Homo sapiens: one gene and its partners. The protein of the gene in region 2 interacts with the protein of the main gene of each other region in a pairwise test. Each region holds a gene or a part of one and is shown on either strand. Other genes may lie near its edges.

Region 1 (3,652 bases), on a different chromosome or scaffold from region 2:
AGCAGAGATAGTCTTTTCAACGAATGGTGCCAGAATAACCGGGCATCCACGTGTAAAAATATGAATCTAAGCACAGACCTTCCACCCTCTACAAGAATTAATTCAAAGTGGACTATAAACCTAAATGTAAAATGCGAAACTATAAAACTCATAAATGATAATATAGGAGAAAATCTAGATGACCTTGAATATGCTTACAACTTTTTGTATACAATACCAAAGGGTACAATCCATGAAAGAAATAATAAACTGGATTTTATTAACATTGAAAACTTCTACTCTGTGAAAGGCAATGTCAACAGAATAAGACAAGCCACAGACTGGGAGAAAATATCTGCAAAAGATGCATCTAATAAACAGTTGTTATCCAAAACAGACAAAGAATCTTAAAATTCAACAACAAGAAAATAAGGCCGGGCGCAGTGGCTCACACCTGTAATCCCAGCACTTTGGGAGGCTGAGGCGGGTGGATCACAAGGTCAGGAGTTTGAGACCAGCCTGGCCAACATAGTGAAACCCCGCCTCTATTAAAAATACAAAAATTAGCCGGGGCATGGTGGCGCATGCCTGTAGTCCCAGCTACTCAGGAGGCTGAGGCAGGAGGATCGCTTGAACCCGGGAAGCAGAGGTTGCGGTGAGCTGAGATCGGGCCACTGCACTCCAGCCTGGAAGACAGAGCGAGACTCCTTCTCAAAAAATAAATAAATAAATAAGTAACCCCACTAAATATGGGCAAAAAACCTGAACAGCCACCTCACTAAAGAAGATGCAAAGGTAGCAGATAAGCATATGAGAAGATTCTCCACATCTTATGTCACTAGGGAAATGCAAATTAAAACAAAAATGGGATATCACTGCACAGCTACTAGAATGGCCAACATCCAGAACACTGACAATACCAAATGCTGATGAGAATGTGGAACACCTATTCATTGCTGGTGGACATGCAAAACAGTATAGCCATTTTGGAAGACAGTTTGGCAGTTTCTTCCAAAACTCAACACACTCTTACCATATGATCCAGCAATTGCAATCCTTGGTATCTTCCCAAATGAATTCAGAATTTGTGTTTACACAAAAACCTACACAGGCTTTTTTTTTTTTTTTTTTTTTTTTTTTTGAGGCAGAGTCTCACTCTGTCACTCAGGCTGGAGTGCAGTGGTGCGATCTCAGCTGGCTGCAACCTCCGCCTCCCGGGTTCAAGCGATTCTCCTGCCTTAGCCTCCCGAGTAGCTGGGATTACAAGCACCTGCCACCATGCCTGGCTAATTTTTGTATTTTTAGTAGAAGTGGGGTTTCACCATGTTAGCGATAGCCAGGCTGGTCTCGAACTCCTAACCTCAAGTGATCCACTCACCTCGGCCTCCCAAAGTGCTGGGATTACAGGTGTGAGCCACTGCGCCCAGCTGAGTGGCTTTATACAGAATGATACGTAATGCCAAAACTTGGAAGCAACCAAGATGTCCTTCGGTAGGTGAATAAAATAAACAGTAGTACATCCAGACACTGGAATATTATTCAGTACTTAAAAGAAATGAGCTATCAAGCCATGAAAAGAGATGGAGGAAACTTCAGTGCCATTACTGAGTGAGAGAAGGCAATCTGAAAAGGCTACATATTGTATGATTCCAGCTATGTGACACTCTGGAAAAGGCAAAACAAAAAGTCAGTCATTGCTAGGGGTTCAGAGGGGAAGGAGCAATGAAGAGGCAGAATGCAGAGGATTTTTAGGGCAGTGAAACTTCTCTATTATGCTATGCTATGCTATGCTATGCTATGCTATGCTATGCTATGCTATGCTATGCTATGCTATGCTATGCTATGCTATGCTAATGCTATGCTATGCTATACTATACTATGCTATAGCGGTGGAAACATGTTATTACGCATAGAATGTTTAACACCAAGAGTGAACCCTCATGTAAACTGTAGACTTTGGGTCATAATGATGTGTCAATGTAAGGCTCATCGGTTGTAAAAAAACAATGTACCATTTTGGTGGAGGAAGTTGATAATGGGGAGTCTATGCATGTGGGGCAAGGGGCTATATGGGAGATCTCTGGCCTTCCTTCTCCATTTTGCCATGAACCTAAAACTGCTATTACATATATAGTTGCTATTCTCTCTATATATAACTGCTATTATATATTATATATAATATATATATAATATATAACTGCTTATATATATATATGTCTTTAAAAACAATAAAACAAACAAACAAACAAAAACACTCCCAGAGTACTTTGCCTATAGACCTTCTTCTATTCATAAGTGTTTTTACCTCCACTCCCATCTCATTCTATCTGTATCTCGCTCTACTTAACCTGAGCTATACTGAATTTGCATTCGGTTTGGACAAGTCTTAGTTCCTCTTTTGGCAGATCATCTTCACATTTCCATCAACATGCAGCACAGGTGGAAAAAAAGGGGCCAATAACTGGATCTGCCTGGGGAATCTGGAAGCCCAAGAGGAGCTGCATTTTGGGAAGGAGCCAGGCTAGGGGCTTAAACTCTGTACTTGGGGGTAGGGTTGCAACACTGGCTCGAAGGGGAAGAAAGGGATTATCCTCAACCTTTCACACATCCAGACTCTGGGAGATGCGCAGGCTTAGCTCCCTGGCAGGGCTACCAGTGAAGGCAGGGAGAAGGGCAGAGGCTTGGAGGCCACAGCCACAGGCCATAGAACAGAAGGAGCAGCTCCAGGCATCCAGCTGGTGGAGGCCACCTGCCCTGAGTGCTGTGCGCCACTCTTCACAGCCAGCTGTGCTGCTGCTACCCATCCCAGTCTCACAGGTCTTGACCTGGAGATACATTTGCAACATTGATTATAGAGGCTCAAGTTAATGTTATTTTAGATTAGAGTTTCCCAAACTTCAGTTGTGCCATGTTCAGGGTTTCAACGTCTCAGTGCAGTAGTAGGTGCGGGCACACACACCTGTGATCCATGTCACCCAGGGCTGCCGTACTTCTGAACAGGTCAGACAGAAACAGTTACTAAGACATTGAGGGTATGCCCAGGTCATGTGCAAGGACTGTATAAAGGTGTCAAAAAACTTCCTGCCACTTACTTGAGGCTCATCCTAAGCAATAAAAATGTTGGAATTGCCTGGACATGTGGCTCATGCCTGTAATCCCAACACTTTGGGAGGCCAAGACAGGAAGATCACTTGAGACCAGCAGTTAGAGACCAGCCTGGGCAATACAGTGAGACCCCAATCACTAAAAAAAGAAAAAAAAAATTAGCTGGGCATGGTAGTGCACATGTGTGGTCCCAGCTATTTAGGAGGCTGAGGCAGGAGGATAACTTGGGCCCAGGAGGTTAAGGCTGCAGTGAGCCAAGATTGCACCACTGCACTCCTGCCTGTGTGACACAGCAAGATCCTGTCTGTTAAAAAAAAAAAAAAAAAAAAAAGGAATCACAGGTCTGATAAGTTGTTATGCTTTCTTTCTTTTTTCTTTTCTTTTTTTTTTTTTTGAGACAGAGTCTCAAAAGTGCAGTGGCACGATCTCCGCTCACCACAACCTCTGCCTCCCAGGTTCAAGCAACTCTCCTGCCTCAGCCTCCTGAGTAGCTGGGACTACAGGCGTACACCACCACGCCTAGCTAATTTTTGTATTTTTAGTAGAGACAGGGTTTCACTATGTTGGC
Region 2 (3,652 bases):
TGGAAAAATGTTTAGAGATAAGAGATTGTATTTTTTTAAAAAGTTTTAAAATATTAATTTTTTTAAAAAAATTTTTTGAAATGGAGTCTTGCTCTGTCTCCCAGGCTAGAGTGCAGTGGTGTGATCTCAGCTCACTGCAACCTCCATTTCCTGGGTTCAAGCAATTTTCCTGTCTCATCCTCCCAAGTAGCTGGGATTACAGGCACTTGCCACCACGCCTGGCTAATTTTTGCATTTTTTATAGAGATGGGGTTTTGCCATGTAGGCCAGGCTAGTCTCGAACTCCTAAACTCAGGTGATCTGCCCTCCTCGGCCTCCCAAAGTGCTGGGATTATAGACGTGAGCCACTATGCCCAGCCAAGAGATTGTAAATGTGTTATAAAAATTGGTTAAAATCTTGATGAGTCAGTGGGGTCCTCTCAAGAAATCCTCCTGAAGTCTAACCAGGGGGACTTAGAATAGTGAAAAATTGGGACAAAATGCTTACAGGAAGCCATAGAGCAGCCTTCAGAAGCAAGGAGTCAGGCCTCTGGGGAAGACATATGCCCTTTCCATTGGTTGCTACTTTTTCCCCCACTTCTTTCTATCTATATCTTAACTTATAGGGCCACTTTGTATTCTACCCCCTCCAAGTTTTTTCTGGCAATTCTGACTGGAAGTTTTCCTTTTTCCCCTTTGAAGAGTACTTTATAATAATTTAAGAAGTATTTTTGAGCACATACTGCGGGCACCCTGCTCCAGACACGGAGGACACATGTTGAACAAGTGTATTCCTGATCTCTAGGAGTGGATGCACTGCCACTCATCACTAAGAGTCTCTGTGGGCTGGGCACAGTGGCTCATGCCTGTAATCCCAGCACTTTGGGAGGCTGAGGTGGGCAGATCATGAGGTTGAGAGTTCGAGAACAGCCTGGCCAACATGGTGAAACCCTATCTCTACTAAAAACACAAAAATTAGCAGGGCATGGTGGCACTCACCTGTAATATCAGCTACTCAGGAGGCTGAGGCAGGAGAATTGCTTGAACCTGGTTGGCGGAGGTTGCAGTGGGCCATGATCAAGCCACTGCACTCCAGCCTGGGCGACACAGCAAGACTCCATCTCAACAACAACAAACAAAACAAAACAAACAAATAACAACAACAACAACAACAACAAAAAGAGTCTCTTTGGCCTCTCTTGGGCTAAGTGACTCGTGTGTTTGTCTTGCCTCTCCTTTAGGCAGGGTTTACTCTTCTATTCCCCAGAGCTTCTAAAGATCCTCTTTAGCTAAGAATTTGTTATCAGAGACCCCAGGGTTACCAAGTTGTTCAGAGGACATACAAATAGTGACTAAGGAACTTTAAAATGAGTCTTCCATTACACTTCTCAAGTTCTTACTAGCATCAATCCCCAGCCACCTCATGAACATCAGAGATTGTCCTAGATGATAAGCAAGTACTGCAAATACAATAGAAATGGATCACAAAGTAAAATTAGAAATCTTAGAGAAGGTACAGGACTTCTTGAAGTCCGTGAAAGTGAGTTTAGAGAACAATTTGAATTCACACCCAAAATTGTAGACAATTGAGGACCTAACAGAGTCATATTAGTTATTACCAGCAGGAGAGAGAAAATCAGTAAGGATGGTGGCATGATGGGTACTTCCCAAGTGAATGATTGGAATGTCAATGAATGAAGAAAGGACCTTGGGAAATATGAAAAACTTTTGAATATTTTACAAAAGTCAGTATGAAGTGAGAGATGTTAAATGATGCCATGATTCAATTTTGTCAGAAAAATTATGCCAAAAAATCCACACTTAATTCACACCTTGTTCATTTAAAAATGAGAGCATAATTGCTATTTTAATTTAATTTTGTGAAATCTAAGATAGTTTTTCATTTTACAATTCTTAGTTTCTATGATAAAATTCCATCCAAATGCCCTGACCCCAATTATACTATGCTATTTTTGTCACCTTAAAAATGTGGATTCACTTTAAGTGGACTTTTTCTGGTATTAATTATCCTGATATAGAAAGAACTTTCAGTAATTCAGTAAAGCGATGGATTAATCAACATCATTTTTCCAGAACCAATGACTAAGAACATTACAGGCAGAAAGGGGACAACTGGCTTTATTGACTCTTAGGCGGAACACAAGGGTCCATAGAACCAGCCAGATTTCTCTGGGAACGGAGTTGCCTAGTCCAGCTAGGAGGTAATTTTGGGATAAGCATGCTTAAGACCTTAAAAGGGAACTCTTAAGGCTCCAAAGGAAGTTGCTTACCCACAAAGCACCAGACCGCAAACCGGATCCATGTGATGGTGGAGAGCTTTAGCATGAGATAGATGTTCACCAGCATGGCAAAGGCAGGCACAAAGGGGAGGCAAGGGGCCATGTAGGGCAGCTTCTTGGGGTTCTCTGGCTGCTGCAGGATCACAAACACCAGGGTGCTGATCAGCAGCACCATCAGAACAACCAGAAGGATGGCCCACCAGCTCTGCTCTGAGATGTAGTCAGAACCAAAGATGATGAAGGAGCAGAAGATGAACATGAGGATGAAGAGCAGGAGCACGCAGATGGTCACCGTGTGCCCCGTCGCTGCTGTGGGCCGGTCCATTTTGCCTGGAAGGCCCAGCCGGATTCTCATGGTGTAATAATGAGGCCCAATCAGCTTCTTTAACTTGATGAGATAAATATTTTCGGATTCATCAGCTTCTATGCCTGTGGTCATGTCCACGGTGCCGTAATTGGGGTGGTTGACGTTGTAGGTTGACTTGTCTGATTTCCCTATGAGCATCTCATTGTCTCCCAAGGATGGTAAGTTCTTGGCCCCACATGTGTTGGTGGCTGGGCCAGAAAACTCATCCCCCTCACTCACAGGAGAACAAGCTTCCTTCTCACAGTCAGCCAGAATGCCCTCCTTCTTCTTGGTGTGCTCCTCAGACAAGAACTTGACAAAACCATCAATGTCACTCTCAGGTTGGTATCGAAGGAGCAAGACACAGACAGAGACCAAGGTGTAGGCCAGGAGCGTGCCGATAGACATCATCTCTATCAGGTCTCTCAAGCTGACCAACAGTGCGAGGAGCGCTGCCAGGAACCCCGACACGATGCAGGCCACCACTGGTGTCTCTGTGTAGGAGCTGACGTGAGCCAGGAACCTGGAGGGGCCGGGCAAGCAGAGGGTTAATGGTGAGCTACAGTGACCGATTCCAGTGCAGCCAACATAGGGAGCTAGAACTATCAATAGGCTGGTGTGATTAACTCCTCCTGGTCCTGCTCCACCAATTTACTTCTGCATTCACTACTTTAAATCCAGCTGCTATTCCTACCCCAGGATTTGGTATATAATTAAAAAAGAATTCACTTTAAATCTTTGATTTCTTTTTTTTTTTTTTTTTTGGTGAGATGGTGTCTCACTCTGCTTACTCTGTCCCCCAGGCTGGAGTGCAGTGGCGTGATCTCAGCTCACTGCAACCTCCACCTCCTGGGTTCAAGTGATTCTCCTGCCTCAGCCTCCCGAGTAGCTGGGATTACAGGCATGCACCACTACACCCGGCTAATTTTTGTATTTTTAGTAGAGACAGAGTTTCACCATGTTGACCAGGCTGGTCTCGAACTCCTGACCTCATGATTCACCCACCTCAGCCTCCCAGAGTGTTGGG
Region 3 (3,752 bases), on a different chromosome or scaffold from region 2:
AATTTTGGAGTTTTATCTTGTGCCTGGTATAGCAGCAGACTCCCATGATGAATTTCAAGTTAAATACTGTTACCTAAAATGTGCTGTACCTCAGAAAACGGAATTCCATGTGAAAAACTGTAGCATACAGGTATATACGAGAAAGCTTATGTTCTTGCATTGAGAAGACGTTCCTTTTCCCCACTTTATTACCCTGAAAGAGGAGCATTATTCTTTATTCAGTGGAGATGACTGGCAGCAGGGCCCCATCTCCTGTCATACTGGTCACTGGCATAATATGTGGTCAGCCTATTCCCAAACTTTCAGTTCCTCTAACTTTCCCCAGCAACTTAGTTTCTCTGCCCTCTCTCATGCCATGTTACGTTGTAAACAAAAATAAGCATGGGGCCATGTCCCATTCTTCCTCTTCTATGAGCATCTTAGATATGCCTACCTTTTAAGTGATTCCTCTTTAAGCAAGTTGGCTTTTTCTCTGAATGCTAAAAGACAGTAAGGGAGTAGTGGGAAATGCATAAAGATCTTTTGAGGGATGGAGGGAGAGGAGAGAAAGACAAGTATTATAATCTCTTTTCCCACTACCCGATCCACAAATATGGATAGAGATAATAAATTATAGAGATAATAAAGTAAAAAAGCTTACCAAGAAAATCAGGATTAAGAAGAAATCTCCCAACTGTGGCAACAGATCTTCAGGGAATAAACTAGAAAAACCTATGTCTTGGACTTTAAAAATACTGTTTAAAATCTACCTCAGGAAAAGGACTAGGATTAGTACATGACCTGTCTGCATGTATATTTACAGAATGAACATCATGTTTCTTTCTCGAAGTTCAGTTTACAAGTGGTATGTTGATTTAGGGATTATCACAAAACACAAATCTTACTGATACCAACTTTTAACAGCAACAGTATAACCACCTCAGCTTGTTTTCTTTGCAGTTGTCCTGGAAACATAAACAGTTGTTGAATAAATATACAATAGAGGATTTTTTGGGTTTTTTTGCTTTCCCTAATATGGCTGTGTTCAGTAATGGCCAGTGTGTGCTCCAGCCTAGCAGCACATCAAGATCATGGGACACCTGAAATCCCAAAGGAAGCCTGAAATGCCTAAGAGGGACAAGCGGGATGGCTGCTGGTTTAGGTTGACATCATCGAATGTGGAAACCTTCAGACTTCCTGGTGCCATAATCAATGAGATGGTGTCATCGTTGACTCCACAGTAAAAAGAGGACCGGAGCATTATGGGGTGAGAGCCAGCAATAGTCCACGATGCTGTACTGCATGTAGCCCAGAAAAAAGCCAAAAGCTACGTCGGTGACATTGTGCCGCCCCAGCATGACCCTGGATAGGCCCAAGACGAAGGCCCACAGAACCACCAGCACCCTCAGTGGAATGGCCAGCACCAGGTGGTTCAGGATGAACCTCGACATCAGGGCGGCCCTTGTGGCATGGCCCGAGGGGAAGGAGTACTTGTCCACCGAGAGAGTGACAAACATGTCCATCTGGTTGTGGGCCGGGCGGCGCCTGCGGACCAGCCCTTTGATCAAGGCCACCAGCAGCAGGTCCAACAGCAGGGCGAAGAGCAGGTTCATCAGCACCTCGCGCCCGGCCCAGCTGTCGCTCCTGCACAGGCAGTAGAGGGTGCCCAGCAGCCAGGGGATGCCGTGTCCCGAGATCTCCAGCAGCTTCATAAGGGGTCGCACGCTGCCCCACGACGAGCTCTCTCCCGCGCACACCCCCAGCTTCTTGGACAGCCACAGGTCGATGGCCAGCAGGGAGCGCAGGGCGATGCCCAGGAAGGACGGGTTCAAGTCCATGCGGTCCTCCTCGGGCAGCGGAGGCGCGGGCGACTGCGAGGGGCCCGCCGCGGCCAGGGGGAAGGAGCCGCGGCGGTGAACTGGGCTCTCCGATGCACGGAGCCGGGCGCAGGTGGGGTCCACGGCCGTGGCGCGGCTGCTGAGCAGGGACTGGAACTCAAACCTGCTGCCGCCGCCACCGCCGCCATGGGCTGGGCTGCCGGGGCTGCTGCTGCTGCTCGAAGCGGAGACGCCCAGCGGCCGTCCCTCCATGCTCCTCCGGGGACTTGGCATCGCAGCTGGCGGCCCGGATCCCGGGACCTGGCCGGACCAAACAGAGGCTTCCCGGCCCTGCAGCCTCTTCCGCTTCCGCACTACCATCCCGGAGGGGCGGGGAGAGGAGCCGGCGAGAGCGCGATTGTGACACCTGGTGGAGACGTGGGAGGGAGTTGGAATTTCCAATGTGAGGAGAGCAGAGGGGAGGATGTTGGCGTTGGGAGGTACAGGTGAGGGAGTGAGGTGATGGGGAAAATGTCAGTGTCTGTAGGAGCTTAAGAGAAATAGAGCCCCGTGTAACAAAACAAAGCAAAGTCTGTTTTCTCTCCCTTGTTTGTTGTTTTCTTTCTTTTTAAGATTTCTTGCCCAGGAGTGTTCCTGCCTGGCAAACAAGATGTGTACCTCGGGGTCTACCTCATGAATCAGTACCTGGAGACCAACAGCTTTCCCTCTGCGTTCCCCATTATGATTCAGGAGAGCATGAGATTTGAAAAGGTGATCTTGACTTTCTCATTGGCTTTTGTTGTCTGAAGATAACCTGAGAGTTCTTATAAAGAACAGAGTTCTTACAGCATTATTTGGTAAATTTCATTTTTAAAAAAATTATCCGAAAGCACTTCAGCACAATGCAAAACCGCAGTCGGAACACTTGCTTTTGTAATGCAGGTCTGAGCCAAGTTCTGTCAATCTAGTGCTAAATACCCTGGTTGATGTTTCCTATTCTTGGAACTCCCATGGCATTTTTTTAACTGGAGCAAAGAGAGCATTTCTGAATGTTTTTGGAGGTGTTAGAGGTAATTGCATTACATTTACGAAAGGGATTATTAATAAACTGTGGACCTTAGAAAAAACTGTGTTAGACCAAGAAAAATAGCGAAAAAAAAATAATGAAATTAGTTAAATCCTGTAACTAAAATCCTGTAACAAAAAGGCTGTTCAGATTTACTGTTTCCTCAGATCATACCTAGATTATTTAGCTACAGTGATAAAGGCTAGATTCCATTCTGGTGAATAACATGGTGATATAAATAGTCAAAACATTACCAGCCTTCTTCACACTAAACTATTCATAGAATATTGATGTTATTACTATGTCATCACTGACAATCTCTTAACATTTTTGTTTTGGAATTTGGAGATGGAATCAATTTTAACCTTAATAAGTCTAATGATTTTGCCCCAAACAATGTCATTGAGGGAGATCTGGGGAGAAGGAAGGCTACAGAGTAGAGCATGTCACATTTTTTTAAAAAAATTATACTTTAAGTTCTAGGGTACATATGCACAACGTGCTGGTTTGTTATATATGTATACATGTGCCATGTTGGTGTGCTGCACCCATTAACTCATTCCCCCCACCCCACGACAGGCCCCTGTGTGTGATGTTCCCCACCCTGTGTCCAAGTGTTGTCATTGTTCAATTCCCACCTATCAGTGAGAACATGCGGTGTTTGGTTTTCTGTCCTTGTGATAGTTTGCTGAGAATGATGGTTTCCAGCTTCATCCATGTCCCTACAAAGGACACGAACTCATCCTTTTTTATGGCTGCATAGTATTCCACGGTGTATATGTGCCACATTTTCTTAATCCAGTCTATCACTGATGGACATTTGGGTTGGTTCCAAGTCTTTGCTATTGTGAATAGTGCTGCAATAAACATACGTGTGCATGTGTCTTTAT

Evidence for each region.
Region 1: the proteins of SLC7A14 (region 2) and NINJ2 interact in binary tests that used the Homo sapiens proteins (3 or more experiments, as listed by UniProt).
Region 3: the proteins of SLC7A14 (region 2) and PLPP6 interact in binary tests that used the Homo sapiens proteins (3 or more experiments, as listed by UniProt).

What each region holds. Positions count from the first base shown.
Region 1 is NC_000012.12:656,897-660,548, forward strand, and holds part of NINJ2 (ninjurin-2), read right to left. Parts: intron 1-3,652. UniProt on the Homo sapiens protein: Its role in unclear. In contrast to NINJ1 paralog, does not mediate plasma membrane rupture (cytolysis) downstream of necroptotic and pyroptotic programmed cell death.
Region 2 is NC_000003.12:170,478,019-170,481,670, forward strand, and holds part of SLC7A14 (solute carrier family 7 member 14), read right to left. Parts: intron 3,149-3,652; coding exon 2,271-3,148; intron 1-2,270. UniProt on the Homo sapiens protein: Imports 4-aminobutanoate (GABA) into lysosomes. May act as a GABA sensor that regulates mTORC2-dependent INS signaling and gluconeogenesis. The transport mechanism and substrate selectivity remain to be elucidated.
Region 3 is NC_000009.12:4,660,714-4,664,465, reverse strand, and holds the start of PLPP6 (polyisoprenoid diphosphate/phosphate phosphohydrolase PLPP6), read right to left. Parts: upstream 2,173-3,752; 5' UTR 2,091-2,172; coding exon 1,203-2,090; 3' UTR 1-1,202. Other genes in the region: SPATA6L (spermatogenesis associated 6-like protein), read left to right, coding at 2,430-2,567. UniProt on the Homo sapiens protein: Magnesium-independent polyisoprenoid diphosphatase that catalyzes the sequential dephosphorylation of presqualene, farnesyl, geranyl and geranylgeranyl diphosphates.